Linked DNA regions of Homo sapiens. The protein of the gene in region 3 interacts with the protein of the main gene of each other region in a pairwise test. Each region holds a gene or a part of one and is shown on either strand. Other genes may lie near its edges. The genes, in order: METAP1, ATXN1L and NBR1.

Region 1 (3,650 bases), on a different chromosome or scaffold from region 3:
GCTCTGGTCCCTGGCCTGGCTGTCTGGCCAGCTTGTCTTTGGGAACAAACAGAACAAAACTGCAAGAGGCCTTTCTATCACACCATTAACAGAAGTAAGGCATTCCCAGTTACTCTGTCACACCACCTTGTTTATTCCTTTATGACCTTTTGTGCAATCTATGATTACCTCACCTGTTAGAAAAATGAGGATTTTTTTTTTTTTTGAGACGGAGTTTCGCTTTTGTTGCCCAGGCTGGAGTGCAATGGTGCGATCTCGACTCACCGCAACCTCCGCCTCCCAGGTTCAAGCAGTTCTCCTGCCTCAGCCTCGCAAGTAGATGGAATTACAGGCATGCACCACCACGCTCAGCTAATTTTGTATTTTTAGCAGAGATGGGGTTTCTCCATGTTGAGGCTGGTCTCGAACTGCTGACCTCAGGTGATCCACCCTCCTTGGCCTCCCAAAGTGCTGGGATTACAGGCGTGAGCCACCATGCCCGGCCGAGAATGTCTGTTTTTTAGTCGGAAGGTGAACTTCATGAATGATCCTATCTTGTTCACTGCCCTGTTCTCATTTCCCAGTATGATGCTCTGTATGCAGTAGGTGGCCATTAAATGTTTGAATTAATGGATAAATGCATCAAAATAGAGAGGTATACTGCTGTGTTTGAATCACAGCTCCATCATTTACTAGTTATGTGACTTGGGCAAATAACCTCTCTTTTTCAGCTGTATCTTTTTAAAATGGGGCTATTAATAATACCTATCTCAGGGTTTTGATGAAGACTAAATCCAAAGTATGTAAAGCTCTTAGCATATTAGTAAACTTAATGAATGTTAGCTCTTTTTATTGTTATACTGTTTTATGTTTAGGAAAGTAGAAATATTTTATCTAGGATGCTTAATTTTTTTTTTTTTTTTTTTTGAGACCGAGTCTTGCTCTGTCACCCAGGCTGGAGTGCAGTGGTGTGATCTCGGCTCACTGCAACCTCTGCCTCCCGGGTTCAAGCGATTCTGCTGCTTCAGCCTCCCCAGTAGCTGAGATTACAGGTGCGCACCACCACGCCTGGCTAATTTTTTTGTATTTTTAGTAGAGACGGGCTTTCACCGTGTTAGCTAGGATGGTCTGTAACTCCTGACCTCGTGATCCGCCTACCTCAGCCTCCCAAAGTGCTAGGATTACAGGCATGAGCCACTGTGCCAGCCTAGGATGTTTGATTTTAAGGAAAGCTTTTGTTCTTTAGAGGAGTACAACCAGTTTTACTTGAAAATTGAGTTTTCCAAGAGTTCTTGATGTTCGATTGTGTTTATTAATAGAAGTTTTCCTTCCTATTTAATAGTTTATGTATGTCTTTTTCATTTGTGTGTAAGAATTTTTTGAGGACAGAGGGTGTGTTTTACTCATTTTTGTATTTTCCAAAGTGCCTTGCCCACAGTAGGCCCTCATTTCCTTACATGAAAGAAAAGACATCAGTGGGCTTGCAATGGAAAACAAAGAAATTCTGTATTTACATTATCCTTTGTAAACACTGAATAGTATAGTATATTGTTGATACACTCATTTATTTGCTTATGGTTGAATTTAGTTACTTTTCAGTTTTTTAGCTGATGTTTAACTTTGTGAATAGCATAGGGCAGTTGCTGTCTCCTCTGGTTAGAGGATCAGCTGGGAGGGACCTGAGTGATCTGTAACTATTTATATTTATAAGGCATAAAAGGTAGTAAGCATAGTGTAAGTGGAAGGAGACCTGGATTTTGCTCCCATGACCTTGGGTAAGTCCCCTCCTTTGCTTAATGAAGCATCCTCTTCAATGGAGTTGAGCAGAAGGTGACTAAGAGAGCATCCAGGGTGCCTAGTAGAGCATATAGTAAATTTGGGCCTTATTGTGCATATAACCTCATATGTAATGTTATTAAAATCAGTACCAAGGAAGGCTTAAAAATCTTTGAGGGGAAATGTTACTTGTTTATGAACATTTTTGACAAATCCAATAATAGGTTCTTTAAAAGAAGTGGTAGGTAACATGATTAACTGAATCCAGGAAGAAAGTCTTTTTTTTTTTTTTTTTTAAATAACAAGACAGTTTTTCTTCTCTCTCTCTCTTTTTTTTTTTTTGAGTTGGGATCTTACTCTGTCAACCCAAGGTTGAAGTGCAGTGGCGTGATCTTGGTTCACTGCAACCTTCACCTCCCAGGCTCAAGTGATCCTCCTACCTCAGCCTCCCAGGTAGCTGGGAACACCAGTTTGAGCCACCACACCTGGCTAATTTTTTGTGTTTTTGGTAGAGACGGGGTTTCACCGTGTTGCCCAGGCTGGTCTTGAATTTCTGAGTTCCACTTTGCCTCAGCCTCCCAAAGTGTTGTCTATACAGGTGTGAGCCACTGCACCTGGCTGGAAGAAAGTCTTGTTGAGCATCTTGTAGGTTGGAGTTAGAAGGTAGAGAAGGAATTGCCGTTATAACATGCAGTATCTTTGAAATGCAACCCTGCCCTCTGAAACTTTCTCTGTCAGTAACAACATTCCTGCCAGTGCAGGGTGTTTCTGGAATTCATCTTCATTAAAGGAGATATTATCATGTTGTGCGTTTTTATTTATAGGGATTTTCTTTAAATTCCTCATGTCACTTCAGACCACCCTTAAACACTCCTGTAAGTTAGCTGAGTTTAGGTACAAATGCCATAGCTTCTTATAAGCAAAAAGATAGGATGAGGTAAAGAGAAATTATGAGTCTTTTTAAAACAAAACAAAAATAATTTCATAAATTGTTTATTGTAGAAAAATAGAAAATATGTGTGAAGATAATCAATTACCCAGAGATGATTTCTATGAAATTTTGGTGTGTATTCTTAAGAACATATTTGCGTATTTATTCATGTGCACACAGTTGTGTATGTTTTTACAAAAATGGCAACCATAATACATATAATCTTAGAGAATTTTCTCATCCTTAATGTCTTAACCAGTGTTTTGGTAGTGTCATGTCATGGCTACATTTACATGATCCTTTATAAAGACTGTTATGGGTGTACTGTCATTTGTTTATTCACTTATAGTTGAATTTAATTTCTTTTCAATTTTTTACCTTCTGTTTACTCTTCAATAAATATTCCTCGAAAATTTAAATCATTTTGACTTACTCAGGAACGTATAATAATGGTACAGGATTTGGTACATGAACCCAGAATTGAACTATCCTAAGCTAATTCTATATCCTTTTCCAGAACAGTGGTTCTCACAGTGTAGTTAGTGGATTATTGTTGGTTTGAGGGCCTTCTGGTCATCTATGAAGTTTTGGCATGAAATATACCTACATTACAGTAGAATTTGTAAAACAACAACAACAAAAAAACGAGCATCATTTGGTTGGTAGGCAATCAAAAGTTATACCAGTCTTTGAGTTACCTTTTTGGAAATTGAAGTGCTATAGGAAATGTGATCTTATACTGTTCACTTAGTTTGTGGATTGAAATCAAGTTTTAGTCATGGTTTTTTAAGGTGAATCTTTTTCATGTTTAGCATATTTGCAAAATTTTAGTTAAGTTTTAGTAAATTTCATAGGAGTGACAGACATAAGTGCATAGCTAAGCTCATTCCAGCTCTAGATATTCGGAAGAAAAGCAGTGGCACGGTAACTCCTTCTGTAATTGTCTTTGGTATTACTGCAATAG
Region 2 (3,650 bases), on a different chromosome or scaffold from region 3:
CCCCCGTGCTGCTAGAAGCCTTGTAGGCAGAATGGTGAGGAGAGATGGGGAAGGGCTATGAAGCAGAGGATCAAGCAGAGTCCTGCAGATGAGAGTGCTCCTCCCCCACACACCCAGCCATAGACATCTGGAACAAAATCACCCTTTAAAGTGCGCATCTCTCACAAGAAGGGTTCTGGGTGGGAACCCTCTTATTTCCAACCTTGGGGCCTCCTGCCCTTCTACCACAAAAAAGAAAAAAAACTTCTGACAGTTTAACTGCTACTATAAGCTGTGGATCATCATTTTTGGCTCTTTCTTTACTCCCTCCCTCTGCCATCTGCTCCCAAAGCCTGGACTTTCTCTTGCAGGAGCTAGGGATGGGGAGGAAAGAACAGGGAGGCCCTGATTTTGGAATGTTTCTTCTCCTGTGTGCACCCCCTTCCTTCCTTGCCCCAGGCCTGCTGCTCCCCATCACAACACCCTCTGGGGTTGTCCTGAAAGGATGCCATGGGGTAATGAACAACAGATCCTGCCTTGGGAGGCTGACTTCATGCCTCCCCTTTCCCCCAAATCTCACTGCCAAGAAAGCCATTCCCTGCTCGGCGTGTGCAAATCCTCTGCCTGCTCACGGCGGCGAGGCGAGGCTCTGGGGTAAAGCCCCAGTCCTGGTCTGGGGAAGAGGTTCATTTTCCCGCATTGGAACGCCCTTCAATGGACAGCTTTACCTCCTGTGGAATGAAAGAGGGACGGAGCAGCGCAGCCCGTGCCTCCTCCCCTTGCATGCTGTATCTTTGGAAGCTCGGGGCTGGCCAGCAGGCCTGAGCACCGGACTCAGGCTGGGAAGGCTCTACCACACGGGAGCCCTCTCCTGCCGGCTGGCTCTTCCCCTCACTGTCACATAGCTCTCTGGATCCCAAGACCGTCCTCTCAGGCCTTTCTCGGGGGGGACCCAGCTGGCTTGGGGGAGCACAGCTGGCCTGAGAAACTGAGTTACTGTTCAAGCTCTGTAAACTGATAGAGATGCAGACATCTCCCACCTGTAGCCGATGGCAGGGCAGAGAGAAGAGTTGTGTCGTCCGCCCAGGGCTGCAAGAGGACCAACCCTGGCCATATACAAAGAAGGGGTGCTCGGGGGGCACTTCGATGCTCACTTTGCTCTGCTGCTCACCAACCACAAAATGCAGCATGACAAATCCAGGCCATTGGCTCTCCTGAATGTCCACGACCGTGCTAGAGTCAATCTTCAGCCCCCCGCTCACTTCGGCACTGCGCACAAAATCCTGGGTCTGGAGGTCCTCCACCCGCTTCAGCTCTCCCGTAGCCAGCTGGATGATGGCGCCTTTCATGAAATGGGAAGGCAAGTGAGAGGAGGTAATGGGGGGCGGCGTTGGCTCCTTGTCTGGGAAGGTGGCTCTGGCCTGCACGTCCAGACTTGATGCTACCAGGATCTCCGAGCCCACAGGCAGCAGGCCTGAGTCAGTTCCAGTGGGCACCAGGTTGCCATTGGCTACAACCATTGCTTTGGGTAAAGGTCTATGTTTTACTGGTTCCTGATGGGACTGAGGGTAGAACCCACGGGCCTGACTTTTCTCTGCCAGCTCTGCAGGGTTCCTGGCTGACCCTCGCCCCTCACCCTGATGGTCGGGGGTATGATGGGATAGGTTGAGGGGGCTGGGTTCCTCCTTCCTCTGAGCTGCCACCACACGATAGTCCTGAGAAGCTAAAGCGCCAACCACCCGCTGGACCTCAAGGTCAGTGTCCGGGGTCCCCCGGTGTGCTGGTGCTGCTACCTCTACCCGTGGAGTCTGAGAACCTGAAAACAACTGTCCATCCACCACACATTCTACCACTGGCACCAGTCCCTGGCCTTCACCCTTGCTGTTGGGGGAGTCAAGGGCTTCACTTTCCCGTCTTACTAAATTTCGCTCTCGTGGTCTCTGTCCTCCATTTGCAGCAGCTGCTTCCAGAGCAGACTGGCTCTCCTGAGGGGTAAGAACTGGGCTGGCACCTGCTGGAGGGGTTTCATGCAAAGTATACCCAGCAGGTAGCCTGGACATCTGATAATAAATGGGCATCCGACCTGGAGCAAGGTCCAGCGGCTGAGTACTTGAATGATGTGGCAATTGCCCAGATGGGGAGGTGGCAGAGGGAGCTTTGTTAAATGAGTGGGCCGGGGAGGGAGCCTGTGGGGGAGGAGTGGCTCCTTCAGCCAGAAGTGAGGCATATGGCACAAAGTGTGGAAGGTGAGAGGTGGCAAGGTTGGCAGAAGGAGATAGGAGGGGACTCGGTAGGAAATTAGGTGGCACAGCATAGGGAAGGCTATAAGGAGACCCAATGAACTGCAGCGAGGTGGATGGGAGCTGAGCATAGTGGAGTGGAGGATAGTGGATGCCTGGATGTTGAATTAGTGAAGACGCTACATTAAACGTTGGGGGCAAGGGACTCATATTCACCACAGATGGGAGTCCAGTTGGTGAAAAGGTGGCAGGCGGCACAGCCACCTTATACAGCATGCCATACTGGTCCACTGTCAGACCGGTGATGGCCTCAGCTCCATCACCCCCCAGGCTGACTCTGGCTCCTGCCTGGCTCTGCCCAGCCACCACAACCCCTCGGGACCATTCAGAAGCATCACTGGAGGGTGTGTGGTTAGTGGAGCAGCTGGTAGTTCTCCCCATATCCTCGCTGGTCACGGGGAGGTCTCGTTTCTTTGGTGGAAGGCATTCCTGACTCCTTTCATGAACAGGTTTCATATTGCTTTGTGGTGTTCCTGGAGCCTGGAAGGAGTCGACTTGCTCCCTGGGGCATCAGAAGGGGCTTCTCTGTAGCTTCCCTGTACCCCTCTCTGCTTCTGGCTGGGGCGCCCACATCTATTAGGGAACAAATCAGAGGCAAAGAAAAGTAACCTAGGGATGAGCCAAGACAAAGGAAATAGAAAGAACTGTGCCATGGAGGAAGATGTAACAAAGGGGACTGTTAGAAAATAAGGAGGAAAGAGAAAGGGGCAGACAAGGAGGCTACCCCCAACTCATCCAGCCTGGGACATGAGAGAAACAGTCGGGGAAATCACAAGGCACAAAGAGCTACAGGGACACGCATTCACCAATGCACAAATAACCTGTGGGCTCCACAAGCCCAGGGAGACCAACAGCTTCACGGTTAGTCATGTGTCTCATAAGCACCTTGTCTCTTTTCTGCCTTCTTCCCAAAGGGGGCTTTGAACACATGGTCTTTCCTGCTGGCTCTTTTGCTTTTTTTTTTTTTTTTTTTTTTTTTTAAAACACATGGAGTTTTGCTCTTGTTGCCCTGGCCACAGTACATGGTGCAATCTCAGCTCACCGCAACCTCGCCTCCCGGGTTCAAGCAATTCTCCTGCCTCAGCCTCCCAAGCAGCTGGGACTACAGGCATGCACCACCACGCCTGGCTAACTTTGTATTTTTAGTAGAGATGGGGTTTCACCATGTTGGCCAGGCTAGTCTCGAACGCCTGCCCTTGGGTGATCCGCCCACCTCAGCCTCCCAAAGTGCTGGGATTACGGGTGTGAGCCACAGCGCCCAGCCTCCTGCTGGCTCTTTTTCTTAAGTTTCTCCTTTTGCTACCAAACATGAATGTGCCACCTTCTTTCCTGAACATATGACCTCATCCTTGCTTCCTTTCTGTAGCCTAA
Region 3 (3,650 bases):
CCCAGCTACTCAGGAGGCTGAGGCAGGAGAATGGCGTGAACCCGAAAGCAGAGCTGGCAGTGAGCCGAGATCGCACCACTGCACTACCGCCTGGGTGACAGAGCAAGACTCTGTCTCAAAAAACAAACAAACAAAAAATACTAAGACCAGATAATGGAAAGTTTTAAAGATTTAGGTGTTAAGGGCTACCAATAAATAAGACGGAAATTGGTTGAAGTTCCAGTTTCAGAGAGCTGGGCCTAAAGTTTTGGCTCCCACCCCAGTCCTGGGCTTACATCAGGGTATTAGACTGGAGCAAGCTCTCAGGTCGGCCTAAAGGAGACTTGGGGCTCTGGAGTCCATGGATTGAATTCCACAGGTGAATTTTCCTATGGAGTTTAAGCTGCTTTTTAAGTTCCTTGACCTCTGCTTTACGTTGTTTCTTCTCAGCTCGCAACCTTTGCTTTTCTGCTTTAAGAAAGTTCTTATCAACCTGTTTCTGGAGCCTGTGAGATAATAAAAGCAAGTCTTAAAAGAAAGTCACAAATAAATTCTGAAGCTATGTGGAGCCAATTGCAATTTCCATCAGTGTCAGCTTCCAGTTTAATTTCTTTTTTTGTTTTAGAATTAGGGTCTCACTCTGTCATGTAGGCTGGAGTACAGTGGTCTAATCATGGCTCCCTTCCACCTCATATTCCTGGGCTCAAGCAATCTGCTCACCTCAGACTCCCAAGTAGCTGAAACTATAGGTACGCACCACCACGCCTGGCTAATTTTTAAATTTTTTTTGTAGAGGCGGGATCTTGCTATGTTGCCCAGGCTGGTCTCAAATATTTGGCTTCAAGCACTCCTCCCACCTTAGCCCCTCAAGTTGCTGAGATAACAGTTATGGGCCATTGTGCCCAGCCTACTTTAGTTTCTTAATTTCTTTTTATAGCTATTATTTCTATTTCACTAACTTTGGATAACTGTCTTCATTATTGCACATCAATTGAAAATGAGCAGAACTAAGGAGACTATCTGTAGTTTTGTGATTCATACCCTGTCACCAGAACCAAGAAGTCAATCAGAGAATAAGCATCTCCATGTAGAGGGTTTTACCTGACTTGTTCCAGAGCAGCAGGAAGACGAGGAGTAGAGTACTTTGAGTGACAGAACGGTTCAGAGGAGCCCACAACAGGTCTCCGCAACTTCAGCAGGACGTGGTTAGTGTCATGGCCATATGGCCCTGCTTCACAATCTTCACAGATATTGTAGGATGGGCATAGGCTGTGGGGAAAGAATGGCACAATACACAATGGCAGAATAGGAAGTACCTGGGGTAGGGAGATATAAGACCATACTTCTATGTTTGCTCCAGTACCAACTAGCAGGTAACCTGAGCATGCCATCTGACTATGCCATGCCTCAATTTTCCTCATTAATAAAATGAGGATAATAACACTTAACCCATATCCATTTTAAATGAAAATCTATGGGAGGAAGGTAAGATGTGAAAGTACATGGGGCCAGGCACAGTGGCTCATGTCTGTAATCCCAGCACTTTGGGAGGCCATGGAGAAGAGGATCATTTGAGTCCAGTAGTTTGAGACTAGCCTGGGCAATATAGGGAGACCCCATCTCCAAAAAAATAATTAAAAGGCAGTCTGTGATCCCAGCTACTTGGCAGGCTGAAGTGGGAGGATTGTCTGAGCCTGGGAGGGTGAGGCTGCAGTGAACCATGATTGCACCCTGCACTCCAGCCTGGGTGACAGAGACCCTGTCACCAAAAAAAAAAAAAAAAAGGCATTTGGAACAACCGAGGAACTACCCTTAGTGATCTAATTTTGTCCGTTCAGGGGAACATAATTTTGCCTGGCTTTGCTAATCCAAATGCACATTTGAACACAACAATCTGAATAGTTACAACATACAAAGCATGTGGGTGAAGAGTAGCTTGTGCTTCCAACTCACAGCTACAACATCTAATGCTCAGAAACAGGGTACAATTAATTTCCCTTTACCTACACAGAAAGCCAGGGAGGTAAAAGCTGTAAGGTCTATCACTAGCTAGCTACTCCCAAGCAACTGCTTACCTACACTGGTAGCGGACACCAACAATCCTTCTTTGGCAGTTGTTGCAAGCAATATGCCAGCTGAACTGGTTTTCTGGCAAAAACAATGTTTCTTCTGAAGTAGGCATTGAGACTTCTGAGGGACAAGAACCCAAGGATGGGTTCTGGAGGACAAGCTTTTCATGTAATTTCTGTTCAAGCTTCTCAACCGTTTCGTTAACCACTTGTTCTCTGAACTAGAATATGGAGCAGAAGGTAGGGAAAAAACTCAGTTCCAATATCAGAAAAAAATGTGAAGATATCAATAGATCTGAAACCTAACTGTCTCTGGTATAATACAAAAACACAATAAACAACTGCTACTGAATAGACAGAAACATAGCAAAAGGTCTATTCCTTCCACAGCTAAACTGGTTCGAAGAAAATATCAAAACATCCTTTTGATAAGTAAATTTCTAACTTTTTCTCAAGCAGAGAGTTGTCCCTCTCCCTTACATGCTTAGAATTAGACTCCCTCTTTTTCTGACACTTCACTGCAAAGGTTAGAGCTTTCTCGACTGGAACTGTTCTAAGTTTGGAAATTATAAGCTACCACTCTTCACCGGTACTAGAGGCAGCAGCCACCTGGGTTCAGTTTTCTATTTCTTCCACATTCCACCTGTGCCAACACCGCAGTTAAAACCCAAGCGAGACAGAACACTCACCGTCTCCAGGTAGCTTGTGAACCAGTCTGGGGGCTTGTCTTGAGGCTGGTCTGTGTCACATGGAACAAGTGGAAACGACTGGGAGAAAACACAAGCCGAGATGTTAGAGGTTACTTTTTCTATTTAAAATACTTTTCCTGGAGTGTATTATTTTGAGGTTTCTTTTGTGAAATCATACAAGTATATAATTTTTTAAAAAGTCACAGTATGAAGGCGTACTAAAGGAAAACAAAGTCTCTAGCCTGCTCCCCTTCTACAGAAGTAAACTATTACCAGTTTCAAAAGTCAGAGAGAGGAGCACACTAATTCCCAAATCTCTGATAAATGTGCAAATCTTACAACAAAGACAATGAGAAATAAATCTAGAAATTGGATAGACTGAAACAGGCAATGGGGAAAGGATTCCCTATTTAATAAACGGTGCTGGGAAAACTGGCTAGCCATATGTAGAAAACTGAAACTGGACCCCTTCCTTACACCTTATACAAAAATTAACTCAAGGTGGATTAAAGACTTAAACATAAGATCTAAAACCATAAAAACCCTAGAAGAAAACCTAGGCAATACCATTTAGGACATAGGCAGGGGCAAAGACTTCATGACTAAAACACCAAAAGCAGTGGCAACAAAAGCCAAAATTGACAATGGGATCTAATTAAACTAAAGAGCTTCTGCACAGCAAAAGAAACTATCATCAGAGTGAACGGGCAACCTACACAATGAGAGAAAACTTTTGCAATCCATCCATCTGACAAAGGGCTAATATCCAGAATCTATAAGGAACTTAAACAAATTTACAAGAAAAAAACAACCCCATCAAAAAGTGGGTAAAGGATATGAACAGACAATTCTCAAAAGAAGACATTTATTCGGCCAACAAACCTATGAAAAAAAGCTCATCATCACTGGTCAT

The links.
Region 1: the proteins of NBR1 (region 3) and METAP1 interact in binary tests that used the Homo sapiens proteins (3 or more experiments, as listed by UniProt).
Region 2: the proteins of NBR1 (region 3) and ATXN1L interact in a two-hybrid assay, tested with the Homo sapiens proteins (one large-scale study listed by BioGRID).

The regions. Positions count from the first base shown.
Region 1 is NC_000004.12:98,998,623-99,002,272, forward strand, and holds part of METAP1 (methionine aminopeptidase 1), read left to right. Parts: intron 1-3,650. UniProt on the Homo sapiens protein: Cotranslationally removes the N-terminal methionine from nascent proteins. The N-terminal methionine is often cleaved when the second residue in the primary sequence is small and uncharged (Met-Ala-, Cys, Gly, Pro, Ser, Thr, or Val).
Region 2 is NC_000016.10:71,848,826-71,852,475, reverse strand, and holds part of ATXN1L (ataxin-1-like), read right to left. Parts: intron 2,853-3,650; 5' UTR 2,736-2,852; coding exon 666-2,735; 3' UTR 1-665. UniProt on the Homo sapiens protein: Chromatin-binding factor that repress Notch signaling in the absence of Notch intracellular domain by acting as a CBF1 corepressor. Binds to the HEY promoter and might assist, along with NCOR2, RBPJ-mediated repression.
Region 3 is NC_000017.11:43,188,207-43,191,856, reverse strand, and holds part of NBR1 (next to BRCA1 gene 1 protein), read right to left. Parts: intron 2,816-3,650; coding exon 2,738-2,815; intron 2,270-2,737; coding exon 2,055-2,269; intron 1,249-2,054; coding exon 1,081-1,248; intron 486-1,080; coding exon 276-485; intron 1-275. UniProt on the Homo sapiens protein: Ubiquitin-binding autophagy adapter that participates in different processes including host defense or intracellular homeostasis.